Homo sapiens: one gene and its partners. The protein of the gene in region 5 purifies or fractionates together with the protein of the main gene of each other region. This does not show direct contact. Each region holds a gene or a part of one and is shown on either strand. Other genes may lie near its edges.

Region 1 (4,525 bases), on a different chromosome or scaffold from region 5:
GTAGTCCCAGCTACACGGGAGGCTGAGGCAGGAGAATGGCGTGAACCCGGGAGGCGGAGCTTGCAGTGAGTCGAGATCGCGCCACTGCACTCCAGCCTGGGCGACAGAGCGAAACTCCGTCTCAAAAAAAAAAAAAAAAAAAAAAAATTAAAATAGGAGATTTGCTTCTCTCCTTGAGTTTTTTTATATTTTAGTGCAGTCTTGAAACACTTCATTTTTTCCTTCAGAACCGTGATGAACTTCGTATTAATAAATGTTCTGAAAAACTAAACGTACTAGTCTGTCTTTGGGATGTTTTTCTAGTTAGATCATCTTTATAAATATTTCATTTACTTCTAAGAGAGTGTACTTCTTTCTGGTTTAAAGAGAGTGGCAAAAGCACCCTTAGATTTCAAGCCAGTTTGCCCAGTGTGGCTCTCTTAAGCCTCCTGACCATATCCCTTCATTTCTGTCCAGGACTTGGAAGTGATGGAATTTGGCTGGAATGTGCAGCACTCACTGTGGTTTTTGTCTCTAAATAAGGAGGGGACAGTCAGGTAGCCACCCATATTTGCTTATTTGATTAATATTATGGGTGTTTAGGTCAGAAAAAAATGAATTTATCTACTAGCTTTGTGACCTTGGGCAAGTTATTTCACCTCTTAAAATCTCAATTTCCTCATCTGTAATATGGAGACAATAGGATGCTGACTCTGTAGGGTTGTCATGAATATTAAATGAAAGTTTATGTTATTAAGTGCAAAAACCTTAACACACTTCTGAGCACAAAGTAGAAACTCAGTAAATGCAAAAGCATCCTGGTCATCATCATCATCATCATCATCATCAAAGCAAAGGTCTAATGGAAGAAATGGAAAAGATAGGTTTGGATAGGGGAAAACCAACTCTAGGAAGATCTTTTCCTAGAAAAGTTTACCAGTCCAGCCGGGTGCGGTCACTCACGCCTCTAATCCCAGTACTTTGGGAGGCCAAAGCAGGTGGATCACCTGAGGTCAGGAGTTTGAGACCAGCTTGGCCAACATAGTGAAACCTCATCTTTACTAAAAGTACAAAAAAATTAGCTGGGCATGGTGGCTCACACCTGTAATCCCAGCTACTCAGGAGGCTGAGACAGGAGAATCCCTTGAACCCAGGAGATGAAGGTTGTGGTGAGCCAAGATCATGCCATCGCACTCTAGCCTGGGCAACAAGAGTGAAACTCCATCTCAAAAAATAAAAAAAAAAAGAAAGAAAAGCTTGCCAGTCCAAAGATGATTTAAAGTTTATTAAAGTCAGATTTTCGTATTCTGCAAATATTTGTGGCTTTTGGTATAGACATTCTAATCAATTATTTCTTTATATGAAATAATTTGAACTTGGCTACTTCTCTTTCCAAAATTTACTCTTAAAGTTTTTTTTCAGCTTGGTTTTGGTAAACATGGTCATATGATGTTATTTTTCACAAAGATAGAGTTGCTGCCCTCCTGAGTCAGCCCCATCCCCTGTCTAGTCCATAATTCTCTTGCCATTAGAGGGTCTAGTGGTGTGGTGGAATGAGCATGGCGAGCTGTGGCCAGGCCACTTAGCAGCCACTAGTGGCACTGTCATTTACCACATTTTAAATTATACTCTGTCTTGTGAATAATGTGCTCAGAATGTGGATTCTCTACTTGGATTTAAATTCTTGTTCTTCTGTTAATACTTACCATGACACTGAATCCTATCATCCTAGGAAAGTTATTAACATTTTTGTGCCACAATTTTCTCATTCACAAAATGGGAATCATAAGAGTTGTTATAAAAATAAACGAGTTAATGCATTTCAAGTGCTCAGAACAGTGGTTGGCACATAGTATGTGCTCAACCAATGGGAGTTGTTTCTCTTTTTCTTACTAGTTTCTTGCTTATGCCTCCTTTGGAGTAGGAATTTTGTGTGTTTTTCTGCTATATAATGAAAGTGGTACTTTCTTTTTATCTATTCAAGCCACTTTGTGTTATTTTGGTTTTTTTAAATATTAAAAATAGTAAAAATATTAAAACATAAAAAGGCTGCATGTGGTGGCCCACACCTGTAATCCCAGCACTTTAGGAGGTGGAGGCGGGTGGATCACCTGAGGTCAGGAGTTCAAGACCAGCCTGGCCAACATGGTGAAACCATGTATGTAAAAATACAAAAAATTAGCCAGGGGTGGTGGCGGACGCCTGTAATCATAGCTACTTGGGAGGCTGATGCAGGAAAATCACTTGAACCTGGGAGGTGGAGGTTGCAGTGATCTGAGATCGTGCCATTGCACCCCAGACTGGGTGACAGAGTGAGACTCTGTCTCAAAAAAAGCAAAACGAAACAAAACCAAAAAAAAAAAAACATAAATAGAGACAGGGTCTCACTATGTTGCCCAGGCTGGTCTCAAACTCCTAGGCTCAAGCAGTCCTCCCGCCTTGGCCTCCCAAGTGCTAGGATTACGGGTGTGAGCCACCACATGTGGCCATACTTTTTGTTATTTTGATTAGAAGTGGGTCCTTAGCTAAAGGTCAAAAGCAGTGAATTATTTCCATTGAGTTCTTTGTTTAAGAACCTGTATTTTTTTTTAAAAAAAGCAGTGAATTAAAAATTATCACCATTGAACTGAATTGAACTCCACATCTAGAAACAAGCATTAATGCTCCCTGCAGGAGAGCCAAATTCAAGCAGTAGATGGGTCTCATAATCCTGTGAAAATCAGCTCGCCTTGTTTCAGTTGGAGGAAAAGTGTAGCCAGTGTCAAGGGCAGAGCATCCTCATTGGGCAGGCAGAGATCTACCTCTGAGTGAAGGCCAGCAGGCTCAAGTTTCAGAACTATAGACAATCCCTTAGTTTTTCTGTACTCAGTGGACCTTTCCCTTCTATAAAGAGAAAACAACTAACTCCCTGTTTATATCACTAGAATGTTGTAAGGATAAACTATTGTTATCTGGAGCGTTTTTCTTTTTTCTTCAGAAAAAGAACAATCATTTAAAATGTTATTTGAAAGCATTCTGGAACTGTAGAGTGTTAGTCTTCGTAACTTAAAATTGATTCTAGTTTCCAGTCTTTTGTGGCTGGTTTGGTGCTTAGAACTCTAAACAGGTTTAATTATTTTCTAGCATAAAGAACATAGCCAGGTAAGTCTATTTTTGTTTTATGTAATGTTAGATTTAAACTGGTTAGTACTGAGTTTTCCCTCTTATTTTCCTTATACTAAAGGAAAGAGTTTTAATTTTTAGGTTTATTTTATTTCACCAGTGATAAACCAGTAATTTAAAAGTAAGTCTGCCACTAGCTGTGAGCTTCTTGGGAAGTTAGTTTACCCCGATAACTTCTGTTGTATGATCTGTGACCTATCTCTTAACATTGTTTTTGAGAGTTATAAATATATATTTTTTAAAAATGACTAGCCTAGTACCTGGCAGATAACAGAAACTCAGTAAATAGTACCTCTGAAAGCATGCCACAGTCAAAGGATAGTAGACTTTGGTGTTGGGCAGACTTAGTTTCAAATCTGCCTCTGCCATTGGGATAGATTTTTAACCTCTTTAAGTCTCAGTTTCTTCACCTGTAAAATGGAGGCAATTACACTTCTCTTATGGAGCTGTAGGAGGATTGGATGTTATCTATGTAAAGCACCCAGCACAGGGCTTGGCTCAAAGCAAGTGCTGGATAGAGGAAAGGTGGTGGTCAGTAGCAGGGGCAATACTGGCAGTGATAGTTGTAATTATTGTTGTCTTTATAGTAATGGTAGTAGTATTAATACATACATTGTTACTTTGTGAGTGGAGTAAAAACTTCAGAGGCCCAGAAGTCGTAACCAGGTCTGTTAAGCTTTGAAGTACCTTTGAGTATTTGGATGTTCATGTTGGTCTCTAAAAGGGAGACCCTTCATGCGCTCTCAGTGCCTTAAAAGTCTTAATATATCTCACTGAGGAAGCCAAGGCTAAACTTTCTACTTGACATTACAGGAGTTTTTCCCAAAGGGATTTTGGAGTCTGAGTTTAGCATACGATAATCATTTGCCACTTATCTCTGTCATTGAATTACTTTATCCCCCCTCTATTTCCACACTTTCCATCACAATCTACTCTCCATAATCAAGTGGCAGTGACATAAACCCTTTTGGGGACCTTTAGTAAGACCTTCGAAACTTGAGTTCACTTCTTTTTTCTTCTTTAGCTCTTTTTTAAAAAAATATTGGGCCAGGTGTGGTGGCTCACACCTGTAATCCCAGCACTTTGGGAGGCCAAAGTGGGCGGATCACAAGGTCAGGAGATCCAGACCATCCTGGTCAACATGGTGAAACCCCGTCTCTACTAAAAATACAAAGATTAGCTGGGCGTGGTGGCATACGCCTGTAATCCCGTCTACTTGGGAGGTTGAGGCAGGAGAATCACTTGAACCAGGGAGTCAGAGGTTGCAGTGAGCCAAGATTGTGCCACCGTACTCCAGCCTGGCAACAGAGCCAGACTCTGTCTAAAAAAAAAAAAAAAAAAAAATCAAATACATATATACTCCCTTTTTCATTAATAGTTTTGC
Region 2 (4,525 bases), on a different chromosome or scaffold from region 5:
TATATCTTACATAAAATATAAAGTTGAAGCCTTTTTTCAAGGTGCTACTAAACATTTTAAAGTTATTAAAGTCTGTTAACTGCCTACAAGACTGCAAATACCAGAAGAAATTATTTTAGGGGAAAACCAATTGAGTCAGTAAAAGATTCACTTTTTAAAAGTTATTTAAGTTATTAACACATTTATAAGTATACAAACATTATGGATCAGCACATCATTAGATAAAGACCAAAATTTTGTAATGGAAGCACATTCAGAAGTTTCTACCTAGCAGTGTACATGACTCTGTATTATGTGCCTATTTTAACACCCATAAGCTTTATTTCTAACTTCCTGAAATACTGGCTGAGTACTTAGCTTCAAGACTAAATAGTATTAAAGAATTAAAACTAAAGAAATAGATGTACATTTATAGTTCTTCCAAAGATGAAAGACATTTTTTCAAATATTATATAAATCACTTTCATAGTAACTATAATATAGAAGTCCAAGATTAATCCAATCTTTAAAATATTTTGCTATATACATTTTCACCCTTTATTCTAACACCAACCCTCAGCAAACTGCAGAAATTGTAATTTCTTAATGAATCTAACTGTGTACTCACTATACACATCAGTGCAACTACTTCCCAAAAAAAGGCAGGCATAATGAGTATACATGATGTTTCATATTAATTTGTTAGTAAGATCAACAAAGATAAAGCTATCAAAATTGAAATAAATGTTACAAGATTAAAATACACAAAGCAACCAATGTCTCATTTTTCAGAAATTCAGCTCATTCACTGGCACTCATAGCAACTCTCTATAGGTAACCATCACGTTACTGATTACCACTAGACACCTCAGAGACTTTGAAATTCCAAAGAGTTACTTGCCCATGATTACACAAGGAGTCAGGAGTACAACAGGATAAAGAAACCTTCCCAATCCATTAGACCACGCGGCCTCCCAGTTTCAGCACTGCTATGCTGCCAGTACTCCTGTAACAAATTTCCCATCACCCATCCAACCAAGCTTTGTCCCTTCACCACAACGCGTTTCTTCAGAATGCCCTTCTTAGCCACCTAAGACTCCCCCAATGATGAGGCAGCCGTAGGTGGAGTTCACAGGTCTCACTGCAGAATCTGAAACCAGATGCACCTACATCTTCGTAGCACGAGGCGTCCATTCTCTCCCTTGATTTTAGGTCTTACATATCTGTTTTGTCATGAAATTAGTGGTTCTCAAATTGAGCCTGTGGATCACCAGAGGCCACTAGGGCCTAAATGGTGGTCCACAGATTAATCTCCATCCCATCCCCTTCACCACAGCCCACCCCACTCCAGCCATCCTCCCTCAGGCTTCCAGTCCCATGGCAAGATCACCACATGCAGAGCTAATACTAGGGCCTCCCAACCACTTGCTGTAACCAGCAGCTGACAACCAAAAGGTCCTGGGGCTACAGGTCACAAGAGGAGTGAGGAACGGGGGCCAAGAGATCTTACAAGAAGGCACAGGCACTAATGAAGCGGGTGGGGTGCGAGGGCAAAGGAATAGAGGAATGGAAAATTAAGGTGGTAGAGGGCTCTTGGGGGCAGTGATCCACTAAAAATAAACCTGTAATAAAGTATCCCATGATGAAGAAAAATTTGAGAACCACTGCTTTGAAATGATTAGGTTAGTAGTCCAGCAGGAACTGTGGAATATTCTGAACAGCACCTGATACACTATTAGCGTTCAAAATAAAGTTAAATCACCCCTTCAAAAGCAGCAGTAACAATTTTTAAAATAACCTTATAAGTTAGTGGCTCTTGAGCCACATTTATACATTTGCCATTTTCTCATGAATCCAGTCCGTCTTCAGTGTCCGCCCTGGAGCATATACACATAGCAAATTTACTTGGAACTTTGGTTAGAGTCACTGGTCTTTTCATGCAGTTTTAATAAACAGTTTCCAAAAAATTTAAACTTTTTGTTCGACACTTTCATATGTGCATATACTGTGTACCTTTTTAATCCAGGCTTGGGCACCAGTATTGGCCAACTGTTCTTGTGTCAAAACCTGTACTCCTGTACTTCCTGTGAACTGGCCAGGAATAGAGTTCAGCTGAGCCCAGGCATCAATCTGAAGAAAAGAAGTAGTCTCAGTTAACTAAGTAAAATTACCTGATTAAAACATCACTGGTAATAATTCACTAAAAATGGCTGAAAAGCAGACTTAAATATTTAACTTTTAAAACATATTTAACATTAAATGTTTGCCTAAACTTTCTAAAGAAGCAGTTTGACAACATTTAGTGAATCCCATTAATAAGATTTTGAAATGTATCTAAAAGCACAGCTACTAAAAAATACAGCTGTTAATATTCTTCAAACTATCACACAGATACACTAAAAATGCAAAAAAGAGCTCATATGACAATGGGTCCCCACCCTCCCTTCCTATCTCATACAAATGTATTGTAATACATGTCATGACAGCCTGGATTCTTAATTACTTCCTTTGAGACATTTATACAGACTAAATTCATGACACAGGTTTAAAGAGTTTAAATGTAGGAAACTGTCCACTTGAATACATAAACGACTATTTTTTTTTGAGATGGAGTTTCTCTCTTGTTGCCCAGGCTGGAGTGCAATGGTGCGATGTCTGCTCACTGCAACCTCCTCCTCCCGAGTTCAAGCGATTCTCCTGCCTCAGCCTCCAGAGTAGCTGGGATTGATTACAAACATGCGCCACCGCGCCCGGCTAATTTTGTATTTTTAGTCGAGACAGGGTTTCTCCATGTTAGTCAGGCTGGTCTTGAACTCCTGACCTCAACTGATCCGCCCGCCTCGGCCTTTCAAAGTGCTGGGATAACAGGCGTGAGCCACTGCACCCGGCCGTAAAACAACTTTTTAAAGAAGCTTGTATACTTTTTTTCAGTCACCAACATTTGTTGTGATAAAGATCAGCTGTCATTCACACAAATTAGATTTACTAAACACCTTGCACTGTCAGCAATGTATTTCCTGTCTGAACATGTACTTACTGATTTACCATAAAACAGTAGAAATGAAATGGAGAGGCTGTCCATTGTTAAAAGCACAGACTCCAGATTCAGATTGCTTGGGTTTGAATCCCAGTTCCCCCACTAATTAGTTGTGTGACTATGGATATCACTTAATCACTCTTTTGTTTTTTTTAGACAGTCTCACTCTGTTGCCCAGGCTGGAGTACAGTGGCGCGATCCTGGCTCACTGCAACCTCTGCCTCCCAGGTTCAAGCATTTCTCCTGCCTCAGCCTCCTGAGTAGCTGGCATTACAGGCATGCAACACCAAACCCAGCTAATTTTTGTATTTTTAGTAGAGATGGGGTTTCATCACCTTGGCCAGGCTGGTCTTGAACTCCTGACTCCTTGCCCCCACCTCGGCCTCCCAAAGTGCTGGGATTACAGGCATCAGCGACCATGCCTGGCCTTAACCACCCTTTACTTCAGTTTTCTCGGCTGAAATATGGCAACTATTAATACCTACACATTTCATAGGGTTGTAGGCACTTAGTTGTTTTTATACACCAGATTGTAAACTCTGTGAGGACAGGGAAATTTTTCTATTTTGTTCTCTCAAGAAACAGTTCCTGCCACATAGTAAACAATAAACATTTATTGAATAAATGATCAGGCCTCGAATCACTTTCATTTAAAATAAGACATTGAAAATAAGGTAAAGGATGTTACAACTCAACCATCTAGTTAGCAAAATTCTTATTTAGACATTAAAACTGGTACATTGGTGTGAGTTGGCTGATGGTAAATAATAATTTTTTTTAAAAAACTGCTACATACCCTTTCCTGAGCTCTATTTAACATGCTCATGGCTTCAAGATCAAATGCATTCTCACTGAGTCTTTTCTGAGCAAGTGCCCGTTCACTCATTGCTGTAGAGATGTCCACAGGCTAAGAAAGAAAACAGAGATAATTATCTCAAATTACCATAGTCCCCTAAATTCTGAAAAGTACTCATATCTTTAGTTGCTACATATCAAAAACAAAATAATAGTCTTATAATACTAATAATCTTGGAAAACAGGGAGAAGACTCAGAAAGAGAAAGTAATCTTGGAAAACAGAAGAGGATTAAGATAAATTACAAAGTATCACACAGGTCGCAGAACTGAACCCAAAATCTGACTGAATTTAGTCAATTTTCTATTATATATATATATCAAACTATAATCATAGAAAGTTCCATTAAGAACTTAAAACTCGCTACTCTTCATGATTGAAAGCCATTTATAGTAAACTGCAAATTTTTTGAACTGTGGTAAGGTTATTACATTCCTTAGCAGTTTTCATTTTACTCATTAGCATAACCTTCAAGAGCAGTAAGCAAAATTACTGAACAAGCAAGCAGAAAACCACTATGATCACTCCTTTACTCATCAGCGTATCTTTAACATCTTCCAGTTGTGGACACTTTGGTCTTAAGAACCCAATTTCTTTAAACAATATATTCAGGATATAAATAAATGAACCATGTTTTCAGTTTATACACACTTA
Region 3 (4,525 bases), on a different chromosome or scaffold from region 5:
ATACACTTGGGCAAAGTCATTTAACACAAAGCCTGTTTTATAATAAAGTGTTGAATATCTTATGTAATGTATTGAATACTGTACTGAAAGTGAAAAACAGAATGGCTGTATGGGTACTAGAAGTACAGTTTTTACTGAGTGCATATTGCTTTTGCATCCTTATAAAGTTGAAAAATCAAAAGTCAAACCATCATAAGTCAGGGACTGTATTTGTCTCTGTATTAGAAGTTAATGAGGTAAGAAAAACACTATACCAGAGATCCTGGACACATGTCACTTAACCGCTACAAATTTCATTTGCCTAATGTGTAAAATCGCTGCCCTACCAACTCCAAAAGACTGCAGTGTTAGGCACACATGAATATGCTTTATAAAGCATAAAACTCTTATACAATGGAAGGGTAAGATTACACATCTAGAGGATTGCTTCTGAGCTGCTCTAGGGAAATCCTTCTTTGGTTCTAATCATTCAGAAATTTGGTAAAAACCTAACATCTTTTTTCAAATTCTACACATATTTTTTAACCTAAGTTGATAGGCCTTGTATTGTGGGATCAAATTAAAGACACCAGAGGCAGGATGCAGTGGCTCATGCCTATAATCTCAGCACTTTGGGAGGCTGAAGCAGGAGAATTGCTGGAGCCCAGGAGTTTGAGAGCAGCTTGGGCAACATAACGAGACCTCATCTCTACAAATAATAATTTTAAAAAATAGCTGGGCGTGGTGGCTCACGCCTGTAATCCCAACACTTTGGGAGGCCGAGGTGGGTGGATCACCTGAGGTCAGGAGTTCGAGACCAGCCTGGCCAACATGGTGAAACCCCGTCTCTACTAAAAATACAAAAATTAGCCAAGCATTGTGGTGCACGCCTGTGATCCCAGCTACTCCGGAGGCTGAGGCAGGAGAATCACTTGAACCTAGGAGGCAGAGGTTGCAGTGAGTTGAGATCACGCCACTTCACTCCAGCCTGGGCGACAGAGCGAGACTCCGTCTCAAAAAAAAGAAAAAAGAAAAAAATTTTAAAAAATTAGCTAGGCATGGTAGCCCACGCCTGTGGTCCCGCTACTTGGGAGGCAGAGGTGAGAGGGTGGTTTGAGCCCAGGTGGTTGAGGCTGCTGTGAGCCATGATCACACCACTGCAATCCAGCCTGAGCAACAGAGCCAGACTCAGTCTCAAAAAAAGACACCAGAAAGATGCTTAAGGAATAAATCCCTAGGGAGTAGATGGGTTACGAGTTGAGACTGTCTCCTGACCATCAAAACATCCCCTTCCCTATAGAAAAAAATCAAAGAAGAGTGATGGGATTGGGGTTGGTTTTCTGAAAGCATCTTGCAACATTTAAATATGAGCTTCAAAACCCTTTTCCAGTTTTTGCTTTCACCAATCTTCTATTTTGTTAATAGCTAACCCTTTACTGTATTGAGTGTTTTACTCTTTTATGCCAGATTTTGGGGAACTTAGTAAAAAACTGGCTGAGGTGTGGAAGCAATTACCAGAAAAAGACAAACTGGTAAGTACATTTTCTTACAAACATATTTTTCAGTGCTTCTCGCCTTCCAAAATATGTAATTCTTCCATAGACTAGCCAGCCAGACAGCACTGAAAATAGTGAAGAAAATTACAAATCAACAGAAAATGGTTTAGCAGAGGACATTAACACTGTTAGTGCCAGTTCACTGTACATGAGGATTTAGCTATAGCAAGGCTGTCTTTTCTAACCTGGTCTGTTTTTTCCAGCAGTGTTACATTTGAGCCAAAAGATGACCTAAGTTGAGGAGTAATTAAAGTGTTAAAAGAAAGTCTAAAATCAGAGCCCTTTACTGCAAACACCTAGTAATCAGTCATGGTCTGAGAACTGAGGAAAGTTATCCACTTAGCAGTCACTGCAAACAATAAAAATATGAGAATGTGATTACTAGGTAACCAGGTTCAAGGTCATCATCCTCATCAACCATTACCAAATAATGTACTCTACTATCAAGAAGGTAGTAAGACACTGATAAACAGTCATATCTGGGCTGGGCACGGTGGCTCACGCCTGTAGTTCCAGCACTTTGGGAGGCTGAGGCGGTGGATCACCTGAGGTCAGGAGTTCGAGACAAGCCTGGCTAACATGGTGAAACCCCATTTCTACTAAAAATACAAAAAATTAGCCAGGCATGGTGGCGCATGCCCGTAATCCCAGCTACTCGCGAGGCTGAGGCAGGAGAATCACTTGAACCCCGGAGGCGGAGGTTGCAGTGAGCCAAGATCACACCATTGCACTCCAGCTTTGGGCAACAAGAACAAAACTCCATCTCAAAAAAAAAAAAAAAAAAAAAGTCATATCTGAATCATTGAGACTTATGATATGAAGGTCATATAGGAGCAAGATGTCATCTAGATGAACAGCCATTCTTCACCCAGATTATCCTTAGTTTTTGTTTTCCTTGTTATTGTTATTCTGCTATTGTGTTGGTATTGCCAACTAGCAGGTTAGTAGAACCACATAGACATTATATTGAGCCAGAGGTTTAATCTGTGATTTTACATTTCAACTTAGAGTGATCTAAAAATCAGTGCCGAGATTTGACCATTAGCATTGAGGAATGTTTATAGTCCTTTACTAAGATATTAATGTAGTCAGCTGTCTGAAGTCAGTTCGGTGACCCCCAGCTTAAAAGTTAGCATTAACCCTCTGTCTGCCCGCCTCTTACTATTGCCTTTCTTTTCTCCATTTTGTTCTTTCATGACTGCTTTTCCTTTTACATTTTGTCCTTCTTAATTTAATTTAATGTTCACTGATGTGATTGCAGATTTGGAAGCAAAAAGCTCAGTATCTGCAGCACAAACAGAACAAAGCAGAAGCCACAACTGTGAAAAGGAAAGCATCCAGCTCAGAAGGTTCCATGAAAGTCAAAGGTAGTGACCACATCCCGCCCCTGCTTTTCTCTAAAGCATGTGAATTTTGCTTCCTTGCTAAGAAACTGGGAAAAAAGCTTGCAGTATTAGAAGTGGACCTTGATTCCCAGGTATTATTACCTGGGAATGTTACAAGCTACCAAAAAGAGATGTTCAAATTTAGAAAATGCAAATCAGAAGTCAGCAAACTTTTTCTTTAAAGGTCCAGAGAGTAGACCAGGCGCAGTGGCTCATGCCTGTAATCCTAGCACTTTGGGAGGCCAAGGTGGGCGGATCACCTGAGGTCAGGAGTTCGACACCAGCCTAACCAACATGGAGAAACCCCGTCTCTACTGAAAATACAAAATTAGCCGGGCGTGGTGGCGCATACCTGTAATCCCAGCTACCAGAGAGGCTGAGGCAGGAGAATTGCTTGAACCCGGGAGGTGGAGGTTGCGGTGAGCCGAGATCGTGCCATGGCACTCCAGCCTGGGCAACAAGAGCAAAACTCCATCTCAAAAAAAAAAAGGTCCAGAGAGTAAATATTATAGGCCTTGTGTGCCGTATGCATTCTCGCATTCTCTGTCACATATTCTTTGTTTTTCTATAGCCCTTTAAGAATGTAAAACTATTCCTAACTCACAGGCCATAAAAAACAAGAGACCATAGACTGAATTTAGCCCACAGGCCACAGTTTTGCTAATGCCTGGTATAATTCATAAAAAGGGAAAATCAGGAAGAACAACTTTGTGTTGTTCAAGGCTGTAGGCAAGTTTTACCTGTCTGCCTCATTGCTCTGTTCTCAGCCTCTTCTGTAGGAGTACTGTCACCCCAGAAGAAGTCCCCACCCACCACCATGCTGTTACCAGCCTCACCAGCCAAAGCCCCTGAGACAGAGCCCATTGATGTTGCTGCTCATCTTCAGCTGTTGGGAGAGTCCCTAAGCCTCATTGGACACCGTCTGCAGGAAACTGAGGTGAATACAACTATCAGCAGCATGACTACAGTTTCCCATATAGTTTCCCATATAATTTTGATTCATTCACTCATTTTACATACATGTATTGAGCATCTACTTTATGCTAAATTATGCCAGGTTCTCAGGATGGCGTAACATAGAAGATATAATGATAATAACAGAAATATCTATAGAGATATTCAGTCTACCTGTTAGCTCTCAAAGTTTCACTAATGATATCCTATTGAAACAATGGCACAAAAAGAAATTGGAGTACCCTGTAACTTATTTTTATTTTTTTAAAATGCAGTGGAGGCTGGGCGCAGTGGCTCACGCCTGTAATGCTAATTTGGGAGGCCCACCTGGGAGAATCGCTTAAGGCCAAGAGTTCGAGACTAGCCTGGTCAACACAGTGAGACTCCATCTCAAAAAATACATATATTCAAAAAATTTAAAAGAAATAAAAATGGGGCCGGGCGTGGTGGCTTATGCCTGTAATCCCAGCACTTTGGGAGGCTGAGGCAGGCGGATCACGAGGTCAGGAGTTCAAGACCAGCCTGGCCAATATGGTGAAACCCTGTCTCTACTAAAAATACAAAAATTAGCCAGGTGTGGTGGCATGCACCTGTGGTCCCAGCTACTCGGGAGGCTGAGGCAAGAGAATCACTTGAACCTGGGAGGCAGAG
Region 4 (4,525 bases), on a different chromosome or scaffold from region 5:
CTGGGATTACAGGTGTGAGCCCCCATGCTAGGTCTACTCTCATTATATTCTTAACTGACCAAGAAAAAAGATCAAAAGTTAGGATTCCTGAGTCTCATCTTAATTCTGTTATTTATTCACTGAGTGGTCTTGGGCAAGTCATTTCATTTTTCTGGGTGTATAATTATTTTAAAATTTTTATATATATAAAATTTTTTTAAATTATTTTTATATCATATAACATTTTTTAAAATTTTATAAATATAAAAATAATTCCTTATTTTTAAAAATGAAGATGGCTCTGCCTCCTTTGGAAGTTGATGTAAGGATCAGTAAGATATGCATACATAAAAAGTGCCTTGTAAGTAAATGTGAATGGGGTGGGCAAAGCATGAGTACAAAATCTCATGAGATGCCTGGAGAACTTCCCCTTAGATGGCTGAATTGGAATCGTCTATGGAGGAGCCATTGCTCGGCCTTTCTCTTGGTTGTGTGGAGATCAGAAAGGAATAAGATCTTCTCTGAGATACAAAAGCATAAAATAAAATGAAATCAATCAGTGAAAGAGCTTGACAGTTAAAGTAGGATTCAATACAACCTAAATGTAAAAGCTACAACTATACAGCTTTTAGAAGAAAACATAGGTACATTTCTTTATGGTCTTAGGACAGGTAAAGATTTCTTAGGATACAGAAAGATTTAACCATAGAGAAACAAACTCTATGATCAGTTGATCAATTGATCAATTTAAATTTAATAAATTAAAAACTATTTATCAAAAAACACAGTTAAGAAAACAGGGACAAGCCACAGGCTGAGAGAAAATATTCATGAGGCATATATCTGACAGAGGACTTGTATCCAGAATAAATGTTAAAACTCCTATAATTCAATCATAAAAAGACTAACAACTCAGGTTATTTTAATGGGAAAAGTAGTCAACAAATAACCAGGCACCTACTGTGTTCCAAGCACAGAGTTCACTGTATTGCAGTCTCCAACCTCAGAACTGTGCTCCAGTCTGGGAGATAGATATGTCAACATCACATTACAATACAATTGTCAGTGCCCTCCAGCCAAGGGCTCCGTCATCTCCCACGCTCATGTGTTCTTCATCTCTGATTTAGAGAGTCAGCTTTCTGCATTCTGTATCTGTACATCAGTTTTTCCATATTAATGCATGTATGTCCTGGTAATGGTTTTGTGGCAGAATCATACATTCTTTTATGTGATACTTGTGAATGCCTCTTGAAAATGCTTTAAAAAGGAAGAAAAGGTACTCATTGAAGGTCAGTGATGGCTGCAACCCATAGGTACCCCTAAAATTACTGCTATCTATGTAAGAAAGTTCTCTATGCTCCTTTTAGTCCAGACTCGGGATTATGGCCAGGACTCCAGGGGAAACGTAGTTATGTATGAAAGGAGAAACCCCCTCAAAGAAAAAAAATTGTTTAGGCCCGGCATGGTGGCTCACATCTGTAATCCTAGCACTTTGGAAGGCCAAGGCAGGTGGATAACTTGAGCCCAAGAGTTCAAGACCAGCCTTGGCAACATGGAGAAACCATGTCTCTACAAAAAATACAGAAATTAGCCAGGCGTGGTGGCACACACCTGTGGTCCTAGCTACTCAGGAGGCTGAGGTGGATCACTTGAGTCCAAGAGGCTGAGGCTGCAGTGAGCCATGATCGCACCACTGCACTCCAGCCTCGGTGATAGAGTGAGAACCTGTCTCAAAAAAAAGAAAAAAATTGCTTAAATTATGCATAAAATGGGTATTTATTACATACAAATTAGAAAATACAGCTGAAGCAAAAAGAATAAAATTAAAAATAATCCAAATCATTCAACAGTGATAGGCACTGGTAACAGTTTGTTGCATGTTACAGATTTTCTTCTATGCATACAGACATGTTTATTTACAAAAATGGTGACAAACACCTGGCTAATTTTTGTATTTTTAGTAGAGACAGGGCTTCACCATGTTGGCCAGGCTGGTCTTGAACTCTTGACCTCAAATGATCCGCCCGCCTCAGCCTCCCAAAGTGCTGGGATTACAGGCATGAGCCACCACGCCTGGCCTGATTTCAGGACATTCTATTTCTATGGATTTGCCTATTCTGGACATTTCATATAAATGGAATCATACAACATCACAAAAGCCCTTTGTGACTGGCTTCGATTGTGCCCAATTTTTTGGCTACTGTGAATAATGCTGTTATGAACATTTGTGTACAAGCTTTAGTGTGAACATATGTTTTCATTTTTCTTGGGTATATACCCAGGAGTGCAGTTGCTGGGTCATGTGATGACACTATGTTTAACATTTTGATAAACTGTCAGACTTTTCCAAAGTAGCTGCACCATTTTACAATACTCCCGGCAATGTTTCAGGGTTCCAGTTTCTTCATATCATCATCAACATTTGCTAGTTGTTATTGTCTGTATTTCTTATTTTATCCCTCCCAGCTGGAGTGAAGTAGTATCTCATTGTGATTTTTATTACTCTAATGACTAATGATGTTGAACATCTTTTCATGTGCTGGTTAGACACTTGTATGTCTTCTTCAGAGAAATGCCTATTCATACTGTTTGCCCTGTCTTAAACTGGATCATATGTCTTTTTTTTTTTTTTTTTTTGAGACAGAGTCTCACTCTGTCACCAGGCTGGAGTGCTGTGGCATGATCTCAGCTCACTGCAACCTCTGACTCTCTAGTTCAAGCGATTCTCCTGCCTCAGCCTCCCAAGTAGCTGGGATTACAGGCATGCACTACCACGCCCAGCTAATTTTTATATTTTTAGTAGAGATGGGATTTCACCATGTCGGCCAGGATGGTCTCTGTCTCCTGACCTCATGATTCTCCCACCTCGGCCTCCCAAAGTGTTAGGATTACGGGCGTGAGCCACTGTGCCCAGCCTCGTATGTCTTTTTATTGTTGAGTTGTAAGAGTTCTTTATATATTCTGATTAGAAGTCTTTTATCAGGTATATGATTTGCAAATATTTTCTCCCATTTTATGGATTGTCTTTTCACTTTCTTGGTGGTATCCTTTGAAGCACAAAAGTTTTTGGTTCTTATGGAGTCCAATTTATGTTTTTTCTTTTGTCACTTGTGCCTTTGGTGTCATATCTAAGAAACCATCACCTAATCCAAGATAACAAAGATTTACTCCTATGTTTTCTTCTGTAACCCTTAATCTTGTAGCTCAGACTCTCTTAATATCTGCCCTTCTACATCTCTACCCATTAGCCCATTAAACACACAAAGGCTTGGAAGTTCAACAGAGGAGCCTGCCTTCCTCTCAGAAAGGGGAGGAGGAAGCAAGATTGTAAATAATTGCTGCTTAAATTTAACACAATTATATTTTAATACCTTGTCCCTTATACGTATACTTATTAGCCATATTTTTTATGCATTGTTTGTTCATGTCCTTGAGCATATGTGACTTGCCTCAGACTTTACCACATTCCACATGACGAGCTATGACCCTATGGTCTACATGAGTTAAATTTTAAGAAATTGATTGTGTCAAGGATTCAGTTAAATGATGAATAAGAGAAAGGCAATGAGGGATTTAGACTCAGGGTGAGTGAAAAGGAAATGATAGGAATAAAAAGAGAAAGGAAATGAATGAATTTTGGAACATTACATGTGAGGAGTCGAAGGGAATGAAGACTGTTGCGACCTGAACGTGGAAACACAGGAGACTAGAACTTGAGCAGGCCACACTGCCACGGTGCAGCCAAGAGACCAGAGAAGCTCAGGATGGGTTCTGTGTCCTTGGCACCAGGAGACCTTGAACAAGAGAGAACTTTGCTTTAGCCTATAAGAGGTAAAACTGGGAAGAGAAGACTTTCTAGTGGATCCCAGTAGTGAAGGTTCTAAGCTAAAACTGGGCAGCATTTGGGCACTTCAGGATGTCTGTATCCTGAGCTAGACGCATGTTAAGAATGTATTATGCCTTTCACGTTTATCTTGTGTGATGTGTTAGAATGATACAAAAGACATAAAACTAGGTCCCCCCACCCCCATTGAGGAGGAAGAGGTTGACATCAGTCATACTTGCAGTCACCCTAATGCCCAACTCAGTGTCTGCATTCAAGAAGTTCTAGTATAGTAGTGAGGATAGTAAGGATACTTAGCCCACGGTCATCAGAAAGGGACAAATATTCTGGGGCTTGTAGGACGAGAAAGGGGATCAGAGATAACAGTCACTTGGTCAGATGATACCGTATATTTTAAAATGCTTCTTGCAAAATTATAGCTTATTGCTATGAGTTCATATTATTCATGATTTTCCCTCTTGGCTGTAAACTTGTGTGCTATAGCTGTGTCTAAGCCTTAAACATCCTAGATGGTTTTTTCTTAATTGTGTCATTATTCATAGTTTTTTTGTGCTAAGGACTGGTCATTGTTTACTGCCAAGGAGAGGGTCCTTGAAAGAGAAAGGGAAAGTACTGCCCAAACCTTCATATGTGGCATTAGAAGGACTTGGCCTTTTGTCATAATTTGATGCATAGTGACCTTAAAATTAAGGGGGACCTCAG
Region 5 (4,525 bases):
AAGTTTCCTTTGAGGTCAGCTGCAAGGGGCTTTCCTTTGTTTTGACTAATTTTAAACTCTTATCAGGATAGTGCAGCTATGCAGTCACTGAAATCAGTGAAAGCCAAGCATACAAGCTGCTGGCCCCTGGGATAAATAGTAATAGCTGGGTCAAACAAAACACAAGCTGAAAGCCCAAGAGGAAAGTCCAGGGAGTCAGACATTTTGGGGGAATAGATGCTTTGAAAAGCTATTGCATATAAAGAGAAATCTAGAAATCCATGAGCATGCTCAGGGCAGAATACATACCCAGAAAAAACCTGGGAAGATCATAAGCTTTTACCTCTGGCTGGTCTTCAGGCTCTGTGCAAGCAGCAAATGAAGGCTAAGGTAAAATTGTAAATTGCCTGGCTAAGTGTTGAAGCCATATCCAAACACTGAGTCAACCTACAAAGATCTGAAGAGTATTTTTTTCTTTTCTTTTTTTCCTTTGGATACCATAATATTCAAAATACCCAGTTTTCAACAAAACAAAATATGAAACATGCAAAGAAACAAGAAACTCATTCTCATTCTCACAATAAAAAAAATTAACAGAAACTGTCCATGCTACAGCACAAACACTGGACTTATCAAAGACTTTAAATCAACTGTCTTAAATATGTCCAAAGAGCAAAAAGAAACCAGTGCAAATAACTAAGAAAAAGGAGAAACACAATGTCTCAACACATAAATAGTTTAAAAATATATTATCATAAGGATCCAAACAAAAACACTAGATCTGAAAAGTACAATAACTGAAATAAAAAAATCACTACAGGGTTTTTAACAGCAGATCTGAGCAGAGAGAGAAAAGAATCAGCAAACTTGAAGATATGTCAAATGAAACTGTCCATTTTGAGGCACAGAAAGAAAACAGAATGAAGAAAAATAAACAGAACCTAAGAGACTTATGGAACACCATCTAGTATACCAACATATGCATAATGAGGGTATGAAAGGAGAGGAAGAAAGAAACATAGAGAATACTGGGAGAAAAAACAGTCAAAAACTTCCCAAATTAGACCAAAGACAAACTTACACATCCAAGAAGCTCAATGAAATTCAAAGATAAACTCAAACAGATCCACAATAAGACACTCTATACTGACGCTCTATTTAAAAAAATAAATAAAAGATTTTGAATTAATAACCTAATTTTACACCTTAAGGGGCTAGAAAAAGAAGAGCAAACAAAACCCCAAGCTAGCAGAAGGAAATAATAAAAAGCAGCAACAGAGACTAGAAAAAGAATAGAGAAAATGAAACCAAAGGTTAGTTCTTTGAAAAGATCAACAAACATTTTTGGAAAACTTTTAGTTAGACTGACTAAAAAAGAAAAGAAGAGACTCAAATTACTAAAATCAGAAATGAAAGTGGGACATTACTGCTGCTCTTTTGATGATTAAAAAATTACAAGAGAATAATATGAACACCAACAAATTGGATAACCTACATGAAAAAGAATAATTCCTAGAAACACACAAACTACCAAAACTGACTCAAAAGACACAGAAAATCTGAACAGAATTAGAAGTAAGGTGATTGAATCAGTAATCATAAACCTTTCAACAAGTCCAGTACCAGATGGCTTCACTGGTGAATTCTACCAAGCATTTAAAGACAAATTAACATAAATACCCCTCAAACTCTTCCAAAAGATATAACAGTAGAGGAAACACTTCCTAATTCATTCCATGAGGCCACCATTACCCTGATACCAAAGCAAGACAAAGACACTACAGGAAAACCTTTAGACCAATACCCTTTATGAATGTCGATGTGAAAATCCTCAAAATACTAGCAAACAGAATACAGGAGTATATTAAAAGGACCACGCAACATGGCCACATGGGCATTTCAATACAATACACCACATTAATGGAATGAAGAAAAAAAGTACATGATTATCTCAATCGATGCAGAAAAAAGCATCTGACAAAACCCAACATCTTTTCATGATAAAAGTACTTGATAAATTAGGAATAGAAGAAAAGTCCCTTAACATAATAAAGGGCATATATGAAAAATCTACAGCCAATATCATACTCAATGGTGAAAGAATGAAAGCTTTCCCCCTAAGATCAGGAACAAGACAAGAATGTTTATCCACTTTCCTGACTTCTATTCAACATAGTACTGGAAATTCTAGCCAGAGCAATGAGGCATGGGAAAAAAAAATAAAAAGGCATCCAGATTGAAAAAGAAGAAGTAAAATTATTTCTATCTGCAGAAGACATAATCTTATATATAGAAAATTCTAAAAATGGCACAAAAAACTGGCTAGAGCTAATAAATTCAGCAAAGTTGGAGAATAGATCAGAACACACCAAAAAAATCCACTGTTTTTCTACATATTGGAGCTGAAAAATATGAAAAGGAAATTTAGAAAACTTCATTTCCAATAGCATCAAAAAGAATAAAATACTCAGGAGTAAACGTAACCAAGGAACAACTGTATACTGAAAACAAAAAGTTGCTGAAAGAAATTAATATGAACTAAATGAAAAGAAATCACATGTTCATGGACTGAAGGACTTAATATTGTTAAGATGGCAATATTCCCCAAAGTGATCTATAGATTCATTATATTCCCAAAGTTTCAATAGCTTTTTTTGCAGAAATGAAAAAGCCAACCCTAAAATTCAAATGGAAATATAAGGAACCCTAAATAGCTGAAACAACCTTGAAAAAGAACAACAAAGTTGGAGGACTCACACTTCTGGATTTCAAAACTCACTACAAAGCTTCAGTAATCAAAACAGTGAGGTACTAGCACACGGACAGATAGATCAATGAAATATAATTGAGAGTGCAGGAATAAACCCCAACATTTTTGGTCATTTAATTTTCAAAAAAATTGCCCAAACCATTCATGGAGGAAAAGAACAGTCAATTGTTCTTTTCTGACATTTGTTCTGACAAATGATGTCAGAACAACTAGATAGTCACATATAAAAGAATGAAGATGGACCCTTGCCATATACCATAGACAATAACTAACTCGAGATGGATCAAGGATATTAAATGTAAAAGCTAAAACTGTAAAACTCTTAGAAGAAAACAGAGGGACAAACCTTCATGACCTTGGATTTAGCAGTGGTTTCTTAAATAACGATGCCAAAAGCATGAGCAACAAAAGAATAAATTAGACTTCACCAAAATTAAAAATGTTTGCATATGAAAGTTTTACATACCAAGATAGTGCAAAGAAAACCCACAGAATGGGACAAAGTATCTGTAAATCATGTATCTGACAAGGTTCTATTACAAAGAACTCCTTTTCCCAAAGAATAAAGACAAATGGCCAAGAAGCACATGAAAAGCTCAATGTCATTAGTAATTAGGGAAAGGCAAATCAATACCAAAATAAGATACCATTTGATATCCACTAGTATAGTAATAATTACAGAACAGAAAATAACAGGTGTTAGTGAGGATACGGAAAACTGAATTCTTATACATTGCTGGTGGGAATGTAAAATGGTGCAGTCACTAGGGAAAACACTTTAGTGGTTCCTCAATGAATTAAACATAGAATTACCATATGGTCTGGCAATTCCAGGCCTAGGTATACACCAAAAGATACAAAACAAGTGTTCAAACAAAAACTTGTACAGTAATGTTCACAGCAGCTTTATTCCCAATAGCCAATAGGTAGAAACAACCCAAATGTCCACCACCAGATGAGCAATAAACAAACAAAATGTGGTATATCCATAAAATGGAATACTGAATTAGTCAATTTTATGTTGCTATAACACAATACCTGAGACTAGGTAATTTATAAGGAAAAGGGGTTTATTTAGCTTACAGTTCCGCAGGCTGGGAAGTTCAAGGGCATGACTCTGGCTTCCAGTGAGGGCTTTTGTGCTTCATTATAACACAGTGGACAAGATCAAAGGGGAAGTGAGAAAAGAGAATACCCAAGGGTCTTCCTGGCTTTATAACAACCAACTCTAGAGGGAACTAATCCATTCCCAAGAGAGCTAATCCAGTCTCACTAGAGCAAGAATTCACTCACTCCAGCAAGAACAGCACCAAGCCATTCATGAGGGATCCACCCCCAAAACTGAAACACCTCCCAGGCTCCAGCTCCCAACACTGCCACAATGGGGGACCAAGTTTTAACATGAGCTTTGGTGGAAACGAACTATATCCAAACCACAGCAAATATTATGCAGCTATATAAAGGAATGAAGTACTGATACATGCTACCACACAGATGGACCTTGATATACCATGTGAGAAATGCTTGACACAAAAGCCACACACTTTTTTCATATAGCACTCATAAATACAATAAATATCAGTATATTTTAAAGTCTGTATTACTTGCTAGAGTGTAAATGCCATGAAGGCAGGGAATATATTTATGTTTCATTTACCAAATATGTTTTATCACTTGGCTTAATGACTTTTACACAGTAGAATCTCAACTATTAAATGAATGAACAAATGTTGTTCACTTTTAATATCCTTCAATAGTTCACCAATGCACTCAAAA
Region 6 (5,060 bases), on a different chromosome or scaffold from region 5:
GAATCATAATAAGGGATTATTCTATCCCTAAATAATATATATAGTATAGGCCACGCGTGGTGGCTCATGCCTATAATCCCAGTACTTTGGGAGGCTGAGGCGGGTGGATCACCTGAGGGCGGGAGTTCGACCAACATGGAGAAACCCTGTCTCTACTAAAAATACAAAATTAGCCGAGTGTGGTGGCACATGCCTGTAATCCCAGCTACTCGGGAAGCTGAGGCAGTAGAATCACTTGAACCCAGGAGGCCGAGGTTGCAGTGAGCCGAGATCATGCCATTGCACTCCAGCCTGGGCAACAAGAGCGAAATGCCGTCTCAAAAAAAAAAAAAGATACATAGTATAATTTGTTGATTGTATTGTATTGATTTCATTGTTTTTAGATAGTGGGTGACCACACACCTAATGGGGATCCAGAGTGATCTGAGGCAAAAACAGATTTAAATCTAGTTAGCAGAAGCTGGTTTAAACATATAGTTTCTTTTTTTTTTTTTTTAATTGAGTCTCACTCTGTTGCCCAGACTGAAGTGCAATGGCTCAATCATACTTCACTGCAGCCTTGAACTCCTGGGCTCAAGCAATCCTCTCACCTCAGCCTCCTGAGTAGCTGGGACTACTGGCCTGTACCACCAAGAGTTACATTCCCTGAAATACATGTTTTAATTTTTTTACAAAAATTTTTAGATACAGGGTCTTACTATGTTTCCCAGGCTGGCCTTGAACTCCTGGCCTCAAGCAATCCTCTCATATCAGCCTCCAGAGCCATTGGGATTATAAGCATGAGCCACTGTGCCCAACAAAGCATATGAGTTCAAAGCCCAGCTCTGATTCTTAGAAGCTCTGTGACCTTGGATAAATTATTTACTCTTATCTGTAAAAACAGGACAACCATAATATTTAGTCATAACATTGTTATAAGGATTAAATGAAGTAATTCATTCAACAAATAATTACTGAGGACCTATTATATGCCAAGCGTTGTTAGGCACTGAGAGTACAGTGAATAAATGCATGTACCAGACATGTAATAAACTTGAACTGTTTTTGTCTAAAAGTATGTACACACAAGCTTGAGGTTGTATATAGGATTTAAAGAAGTTGCAAGGTGCAGAAACAGGAATGAATTATTTATCGGGCCTAAGATCATGAAGCTGAAATGTTGATGAACACAGAATAGTATCTAATTACAAGAGAGTATTGTTTGATCGAGGGTTAGAAGCAAATAGACCTGTTGATTGATTCAACGTGTGTGTTGAGCAATTTACGCCGCATATTAGGTTAATTTTCTAAGGGCTAGAACTGGCTGTCAGGCATTTTAACATCTCTTCCATAACAACACCTATGAAAACTCAGAACAGCAATGAAAGCAAGAATAAAAAATGGAAGAGTGTAACTCACGTGGAATAGTTATTAATATTGATGATAAAATATTTTTAAAGATAAAGTTATTCATTATTTTCTGAGAGGATTAAAAACTGCATTCCACCTACTGAATACTTTTGCCCCAAAGTTACATTCCCTGAAATACATGTTTTAATCAGTTTAAAACTATGTAATGGTGACTCAGTACTCTGCTTGTTAAACCAGGATGCTACTCCTAGGATAACTGAAGCACAGCATGGGGTAGAGAAGTCAGAATAATAAAATGTATCTTCCTGAAGCATCTGTTTTCCCTCGGCTTTTCATATTGAAACCCACAAAAATCTATCATAGAACAGAATGCAAAACTCTACTTAATTTCATAACATAAAACACGAAACATCGAAACATCGGAGAAACTCCTTGCTCTGTCCTCTTGTTGCAGGTATGGAAGCTCTGGGTTCTTTAGGAGAAAAGTTAGTGAGCACTGTGCATTAGAAATGAATTTTTCCATCTTTTCACATTGTTGTCAGTGAGAAGGGGTTTACTTTTATAATGCTTTTAATTTTTTGTTTACTTCCTGACTTGTCATTGCTTTCCGTTATCTATGGAAACTAGAAATAAATTCTCATACACCACAAAAATAACAGCAACACAACATATTTCTGACTAGGACACAGCGGCTGAGCTTTGAAAAGCATTCCTCACCGTCTGGTGCGCTCTACCAACAACATCAGAGGAAGACATTTCTGTTACTGCAATAACACAAGGTGCTAAGAGAAAATCTGTGAAAAGGAATTCACTCCAGTACAAAATCCCCGCTAAAGTTCGCCTTGCAGAAGACTGTAAACTAGCTTGACGGAGTTTGCTTAACCTCCATAGCATTGTCCAAAATTTTAGCCATTCAAAATCTAAGAAAAGTGAGTCGGCTGTAAAACCCTGTCATTCTCTAATTCATGTAACTGCGTTTATACTTTTCACAGTACTTATCACTGTCAGAAACGATCTTAGCCAATTGTTTCACGTGTTTCTTTTCTGTCTCTTCTATCTTCAATCTCTACAAACAGGGTCACTTGTATCTCCAGCATCTAGCCAAGCACTGGGGTATTATATAGCAGATGCTCAAAATGTCCTTGTTGAGTTTCTTCAGCAAGAGTCAGTGATGACCACTTTTGATCACACATACTTCTCAACTGATACTTAAGCCGAAGATAGGGGAAAGTGTGTCTGACCTATTCAGAGTGCAGGGACCCATTTGATGGAGTGAATGCTCCTCTGGATTCTCCGCATCTTTTGCCATCTTTGATGCTGAAACGCTAATGGGAGGGTAAATGGGGAAAAGTCTTTTTTGTTGGTGTTTTAGTAGAGACGGGGGAGCGGAAGATCTCGCTTTGTTACCCAGGTTTTTCTCGAACTTCTGGTCTCAAGAGATCGTCCCGCCTCAGCCTCCCAAAGTGCTGAGATTGCAGTCGTCAGCCACCGCCCCCAGCCTTGGTAGAAGGCCTTGATAGGACATTTCTCCTGTGTTTAAGGCAATGCCGAGGCTAACCGCCTTAGGGCCTCAACACCAACTCCCCGAGATCCCATCAGCGGACAGGGTGAATCCAGCGCCCGGCCTCGGGCCCCGCGCGTCTCGCAGCGAGCGCCGCGGAGCGCACCAGGGCCGCCGCACCCGCGGTCACAGCAGCGCCGCTCCAGATTTGGAAGGAAATCGCGCTTTGTCCCGGGTTCTGCTCGCATCCTCCGGGACAAGGCCCGGCTCCTGCCAGGCGGGGTGGCCACGGGACACACCCTTTGGACCTCCTGGGGAGTTAGCCCACCCGAGTCCCCAGCCCGGGCGCGGGCGGCGCCGGTACCCTGCTCACCGCTGGGGAACCTGCTGCTGTCGCCGGCCTTGTTGAGGGCGCTGCTGGAGCAGCCCATTGCGGGGAGCGCAGACACCTGTCTCAGCCCTGCGCGGGTGTCGGCCCGGAACCGGGAACCGAAGGCAACTGCACCCGTAGCCGCGGAAGTTTCTCCAGCTCTGCAGCCCGGCTCCCTTGGGCGTAGAGCGCAAGCGCGCAGCGGGGCTAATGGTAGGGGGTGCGCACCTGGAGGAGGAAGGGAGCTGGCAGGAGGTGGAAGGAGCCTGGGAGCGCAAAGCGGAAGAGAGCGGGAGGGCCAGGACGCAGAGGAGGGCAGGGAGGAGTAGAGCCCAGGAGACAGGAGGGGAGACGGTGGAGGGTATGGCACAGTAAGAGAGGAAAAGCCCCTAAAGCAGGGATAGGGAGGATGTCAGGGGGCGAGGGCGAAGCGCTGGGAGGTATCATCTGACTCATCACTAAATAGCCAGGGAGGCGAGGCGGCCTTGGGACTAGGGGCTATTGATTGGTAGACTAGATGTGCGATGACAGTCTTATTTTCTTACATAACTACAATTACCACAAGGAAGTTTAACTTTGATACAGTACGATTTAATCCACCCTCCATGTTCCCTTTTTGCCAATTGTCCAATCCAGGACTGCACGTTGCATTTAGTTGTGTCTCTCTTTAGTTTGCTTTAATCTGAAGTAGTTCCTCCAGTCTTGCTTTGTCGTTATGACTTTGACATTTATTAAGAGAATAGATTTTTTTTTTTTTTTGAAACCGAGTCTCTCTCTGTTGCCCAGGCTGGAGTGTAGTGGCGCAATCTCGGCTCACTGCAACCTCTGCCTCCCGGGTTCAAGCGATTCTCCAGCCTCAGCCTCCAGAGCAGCTGGGATTACAGGCGCCTGCCACCGTGCCCAGCTAATTTTTGTAATTTTAGTAGAGACGGGGTTTCACCATATTGGTCAGGCTGGTTTCGAACTCCTGACCTCAGGTGATCCACCCGCTTCGGCCTCTCAAAGTGCTGGGATTACAGGCATGAGCCACTGCGCTCGGCCTTTTTTTTTTTTTTTTTTTTTCCGGAGATGGAGTCTCACTGTGTCACCAAGACTGGAGTGTAGTGGCGAGATCTCAGCTCACTGCAACCTCCACCTCCCTGGTTCAAGAAACTCTCCCTGCTTCAGCCTCCTGAGTAGCTGGAATTACAGGCATGCGCCACCACGTCTGGCTATTTTTTGTATTTTTTAGTAGAGACGGCGTTTCACCATGTTGGCCAGGCTGGTCTTGAACTCCTGATCGCAGGTGATCCGCCCGCGTGGGACTCCCAAAGTGCTGGGATTACACATGTCAGCCACCGCACCCGGTGAGAACAGGCTTTTTTTTTTTTTAATTTGAGACACGGTTTCATTCTTGTTGCCCAGGCTGGAGTGCAATGGCACAATCTCAGCTCACCACAACTTTCGCCTCCTGGGTTCAAGCAATTCTCCTGCCTAAGCCTCCTGAGTAGCTGGGATTACATGCATGCGCCACCACACCCTGCTAATCTTGTATTTTTAGTAGAGATGGGGTTTCTTCATGTTGGTAAGGCTGGTCTCGAACTCCCGACCTCAGGTGATCCGCCTGCGTCAGCCTCCCAAAGTGCTGGGATTACAGGCATGAGCCATCGCGCCTGGCCAGGCCTTTTTTTAGAGAGAAAGAGGCTGGGCGCGGTGGCTCATGCCTGTAATTCCAGCACTTTGAGAGGCTGAGGCAGGAGAATCTCTTGAACCCGGGAGGTGCAGTTTTCAGTGAGCCAAGCCTGCCCTCCAGCCTGGGTGACAGAGCAAGATTCCATCCAAAAAAAATTTTTTTATAGA
Region 7 (3,500 bases), about 14 Mb from region 5:
CTCCTGCTCGAGGTCTCTTACCGTTGACATGGTTGATATTGCCCTGGATTTCAGCCTGAGTTAGGTAGTGGTCATAGATGTCCTGGCTTTCTCTGTCATCCTGCAAAAACTCCATTGAAAGGGAACCTGGGAAACCCAATTTAATCTCCTTGTCCTGCTCTTCCCTGCCTGGCTACACTTATTTCTTCTTCTGGGGACCTTCCCAAGGCCAAAGTTCAGTCTGCTCAGAATTCAGGAATTGTGGGGTCTAAAACACTTGGCACTGACATAATTAAGCCAAACCAACCTTTGGAACCTCCAGTCCAATCTCATTCTGTTCTACATTCCAGCACCCCTCTCAGGCTTCCCTGAAGATCATCCCCCAAGAACCTCTTCTCCAGTCTTCTCTTCGGAATTCTCATCATTCTTCCAAGTTCCTTTCCTATTTCTCTAAAATCACTGATAAATTATGGTTTCTCTAAGAAGCAATTTTGGATACTAGAGACATGACAGATAGGAGTCCCGGTTTCACTTGAGACTTTCCAGCCACTCAACTTTTCGGTCCCTGCAACCCAAGACTACTCCTTACATGGTTCCTGGCATTGGCTGCCTTCTCCATCTTGGCCTGGGCCAGCATCTCTTGGTAGACGGCTGCCAGAGGCTCTCGGAGATTCTCCAGAAGAGCACTGGGATTCTGCAAGGCAGCCAGGGTGTCCTCCACCACCCCTCGCTCCACTGCTTCATTGATGGCAAGAACAGCTGCATGGACTGGGAGAGGGCATGGAAACAAGGTCAGGAGGCCAGAGTGAATCCCAGATTGGAGCGCAACCAGTAGCAGCCCACTCTAATGTCATCCTTTTTCCCACCCTCAAGGGCCAGACAAACCAGGTAGCCTGATGGCCCTATCTGTGGATGAGAGCTGGCCAGAACCCATCCAATGGCTGTGAGGCTTGGAGCCCTCCCATACGCATTGAGCCTACTCCTGGCAGGGCAGAGCCTAGTCCTTACCTGCAGCCTCATCCACCGAGAGCTCATTGGCCAAGATGCCCCCGATCTTGCTGAAGGCAGGCAGCTGGAGGCCATATTTGGCCAGTTCGGACGCCATGTTGCTGAGTTCCTCAGCTGCAATGATGCCACAGGTGCCCTTCATCAGGCCCAGAACCCCCAAGACCCTGCCCAGGCTGTGGTGGTCAGGGAAGGAGCTGGGCTTACCTGTGAATTTCACTTTCCCGTATAGATCATGTATCTGAGGGGCCAATCCCAGCCGGAAGAGGAAGAGACTAGGAAAAAACGGAAGGCATTGGAAGGCACTGGGGCCTATTCATTTTGACACTCTGCCCACGATGGGTTTGAAGGGGATACTATGGGGACCTAGAGATGAAGACCACTCAGCACCTGCCCTCAAGTCATCCCCAACCCACATAAAGAAATATGACCATAAATCAGCCCAAGGAAAGTGCTGCAGAAGGTAAATAAGATGGTGTTGGGGGTCTGAGGGGATTAGGAAGGCTTCACAGAGAAGGCCACATTGCAGTAGCAGGTCACTCAATGGAGAGAGAGGACAGGAAGGGCGCAGCAAGCAGATACCTGCTGAGCTAAGGCACAGGGGCACAAAGGGACATGGGAAGTGGTCAGAAAGAGATGGCATGGTAAACACAAGGAACCGGTCGGTCACTTGCTGTGATTTAGCCAACTGGTTGCTGATGGCTGGCTGTAAGTAGGACCAAAGAGCCTACACCATCCATACTAAGTGTCTTGCCTGTGTTGCTCTCAATAGGTCCTGTTCTGATTCCTTTATACCCAGTTACAAACTGAAGGCCCTACCCTGCTACTTTCCTATCTCTGGTACCCTGCCTGCCCTTCCCCTTCACCCACACAGGCCATACATAAATGTGCCCACAGACATGCACAAAAATCTAAACACAACTCTGTAAATCTGAAACCTCACTCTCCTGAGCAGTGCTCCCTGTGGTCTACCCTTCATCCTTCTTTCTTGCTGAGTTTGTTGTTGTTGATTGTTGGTCGCATCCACCTAGAGGAACCTGGATGATAAAATTTGAGGTCTCTCACCTGAGAGCATGGATGCAGTAGACTACCCGGGGCATGTTCTTTTTGTCATAGATGTCCGTGGTCTCTGGGAAGAAGGTCTAGAGGAGAAACCAGCCAGTTACTGCCATTGGGAACCTTTAAGCACCACCAAATGCGGAGAGGGGGTGCCGAGGAATGGGTCTTCCTCTCCAACCTGAGGTGTGTGTTCCCTTGTTACCTGGGGTGTCTAGGTCAGTCTCCCCCAACCATTTCTAGTCAGCCTAGTATAAAAGAAATTCACTGAGGATGCATACTAAGCCAAGGCTCAGCCACAGACACATAGTCCTAGGGTGCCCTGGATTAACCAAACACCAGATAAGGCCATCAAGGCTACAGGATATAAGCCATATCCTCCAAAAACAATAACAGCAACAACAACAAAAAACCAGGCCCCCAGTTGTCTTCCAGATGTCTATAGTGAGCCTGCATGCCTCACCTTAGACCCTTGCCAGAGATGTGGTATGCTGGAGAGCTGGCCTACTCCCATGCAGGGCCCAATGAAGCATATATTGCCAAGGACCACAAAAGTGTCAGGCTGTTATCCCTGTCTCCAAGCCAGCGGCTTCTGATCAATGAGAGCCCTTCTAAGAACCGAGTGGCACCAGGTATGGCTTCTCAATGCCACCTGACAACTGTAATGAGGCCTAACCTCAATATATCTTGGTTATATTTAGATTCACAATAAAAGACCAAATTTAGAGACCTAGAGTGTTCCAGTCCCACTGAAGACACATGACCTCTATTGCTTCTGCCTCCCATCGAAGTGTCTTTACTGCTGTTTCCTGTCTTATAGTGCCTTTCTACAGGGAAGAAAAACAAAGCAGAAAGAAACCATACATTGTAGAATCCTATCATGCCTTCATTTGTATAGCTCTTCACAGTTCACAAAGGGAGTTCACACAGACCATGTGATCTTCCTGACAACACTGTAAGGTAGACAGGGCAGGGCTCACTATCCCCATTTTACAGATGAGTAACAAATTGAGGTTCAAAGAGTGAAATCATGTGTCCAGTTGGGGTTTTGGACCTAGGCTTCTAACTCAAAGTCTGCCACCTAGGGATGTGTATACCCTTGCTTCACACTGTGAAATTTGGTGGAGACAAGGCTGGCCAATACGAGCATGACATAGCAGCCTCCCACCCCCTGCATAATGGGAACCGTGCCACTCAGGCCAGGGAAACTTCACCTCCTTTCATCCACAGGGAAGAGGAGGCAGAGAAAAAAATAACCTGGTTCAAAGACACACAGCTGCAAGGAACTGTTCTCTTAGATTAAGTTAGTTTAGAAGACACATGGAAATAGGGCTAAAGGGTCCAGGGAGATAAAGCATGGGATTGTGGGAGGTGGCTGGTAAGGAGTAAAGATGAATACCAATCTTCAGGCCCAGTATTACCGAAGGCAGACCGATGTGGGCTATTGCAGATAGCCAAAA

Evidence for each region.
Region 1: the proteins of KIFAP3 (region 5) and CRYBG1 purify together in Homo sapiens (affinity purification with mass spectrometry; one large-scale study listed by BioGRID and IntAct). This does not show direct contact.
Region 2: the proteins of KIFAP3 (region 5) and SON purify together in Homo sapiens (affinity purification with mass spectrometry; one large-scale study listed by BioGRID and IntAct). This does not show direct contact.
Region 3: the proteins of KIFAP3 (region 5) and HMGXB4 purify together in Homo sapiens (affinity purification with mass spectrometry; one large-scale study listed by BioGRID and IntAct). This does not show direct contact.
Region 4: the proteins of KIFAP3 (region 5) and RUSC2 purify together in Homo sapiens (affinity purification with mass spectrometry; one large-scale study listed by BioGRID and IntAct). This does not show direct contact.
Region 6: the proteins of KIFAP3 (region 5) and ERICH5 purify together in Homo sapiens (affinity purification with mass spectrometry; 2 studies listed by BioGRID and IntAct, with this or other methods). This does not show direct contact.
Region 7: the proteins of KIFAP3 (region 5) and IQGAP3 purify together in Homo sapiens (affinity purification with mass spectrometry; one large-scale study listed by BioGRID and IntAct). This does not show direct contact.

Annotation. Positions count from the first base shown.
Region 1 is NC_000006.12:106,363,121-106,367,645, forward strand, and holds part of CRYBG1 (beta/gamma crystallin domain-containing protein 1), read left to right. Parts: intron 1-4,525. UniProt on the Homo sapiens protein: May function as suppressor of malignant melanoma. It may exert its effects through interactions with the cytoskeleton.
Region 2 is NC_000021.9:33,566,555-33,571,079, reverse strand, and holds part of SON (protein SON), read right to left. Parts: intron 3,924-4,525; coding exon 3,813-3,923; intron 2,110-3,812; coding exon 1,993-2,109; intron 1-1,992. UniProt on the Homo sapiens protein: RNA-binding protein that acts as a mRNA splicing cofactor by promoting efficient splicing of transcripts that possess weak splice sites.
Region 3 is NC_000022.11:35,284,551-35,289,075, forward strand, and holds part of HMGXB4 (HMG domain-containing protein 4), read left to right. Parts: intron 1-1,446; coding exon 1,447-1,511; intron 1,512-2,796; coding exon 2,797-2,902; intron 2,903-3,687; coding exon 3,688-3,857; intron 3,858-4,525. UniProt on the Homo sapiens protein: Negatively regulates Wnt/beta-catenin signaling during development.
Region 4 is NC_000009.12:35,541,711-35,546,235, forward strand, and holds part of RUSC2 (AP-4 complex accessory subunit RUSC2), read left to right. Parts: intron 1-4,525. UniProt on the Homo sapiens protein: Associates with the adapter-like complex 4 (AP-4) and may therefore play a role in vesicular trafficking of proteins at the trans-Golgi network.
Region 5 is NC_000001.11:170,067,645-170,072,169, forward strand, and holds part of KIFAP3 (kinesin-associated protein 3), read right to left. Parts: intron 1,274-4,525; exon of another isoform or gene 1-1,273. UniProt on the Homo sapiens protein: Involved in tethering the chromosomes to the spindle pole and in chromosome movement. Binds to the tail domain of the KIF3A/KIF3B heterodimer to form a heterotrimeric KIF3 complex and may regulate the membrane binding of this complex.
Region 6 is NC_000008.11:98,062,892-98,067,951, reverse strand, and holds the start of ERICH5 (glutamate-rich protein 5), read right to left. Parts: upstream 3,385-5,060; 5' UTR 3,283-3,384; coding exon 3,225-3,282; intron 1-3,224.
Region 7 is NC_000001.11:156,562,566-156,566,065, forward strand, and holds part of IQGAP3 (ras GTPase-activating-like protein IQGAP3), read right to left. Parts: coding exon 3,462-3,500; intron 2,868-3,461; exon of another isoform or gene 2,771-2,867; intron 2,127-2,770; coding exon 2,050-2,126; intron 1,260-2,049; coding exon 1,192-1,259; intron 1,102-1,191; coding exon 988-1,101; intron 748-987; coding exon 569-747; intron 101-568; coding exon 22-100; intron 1-21.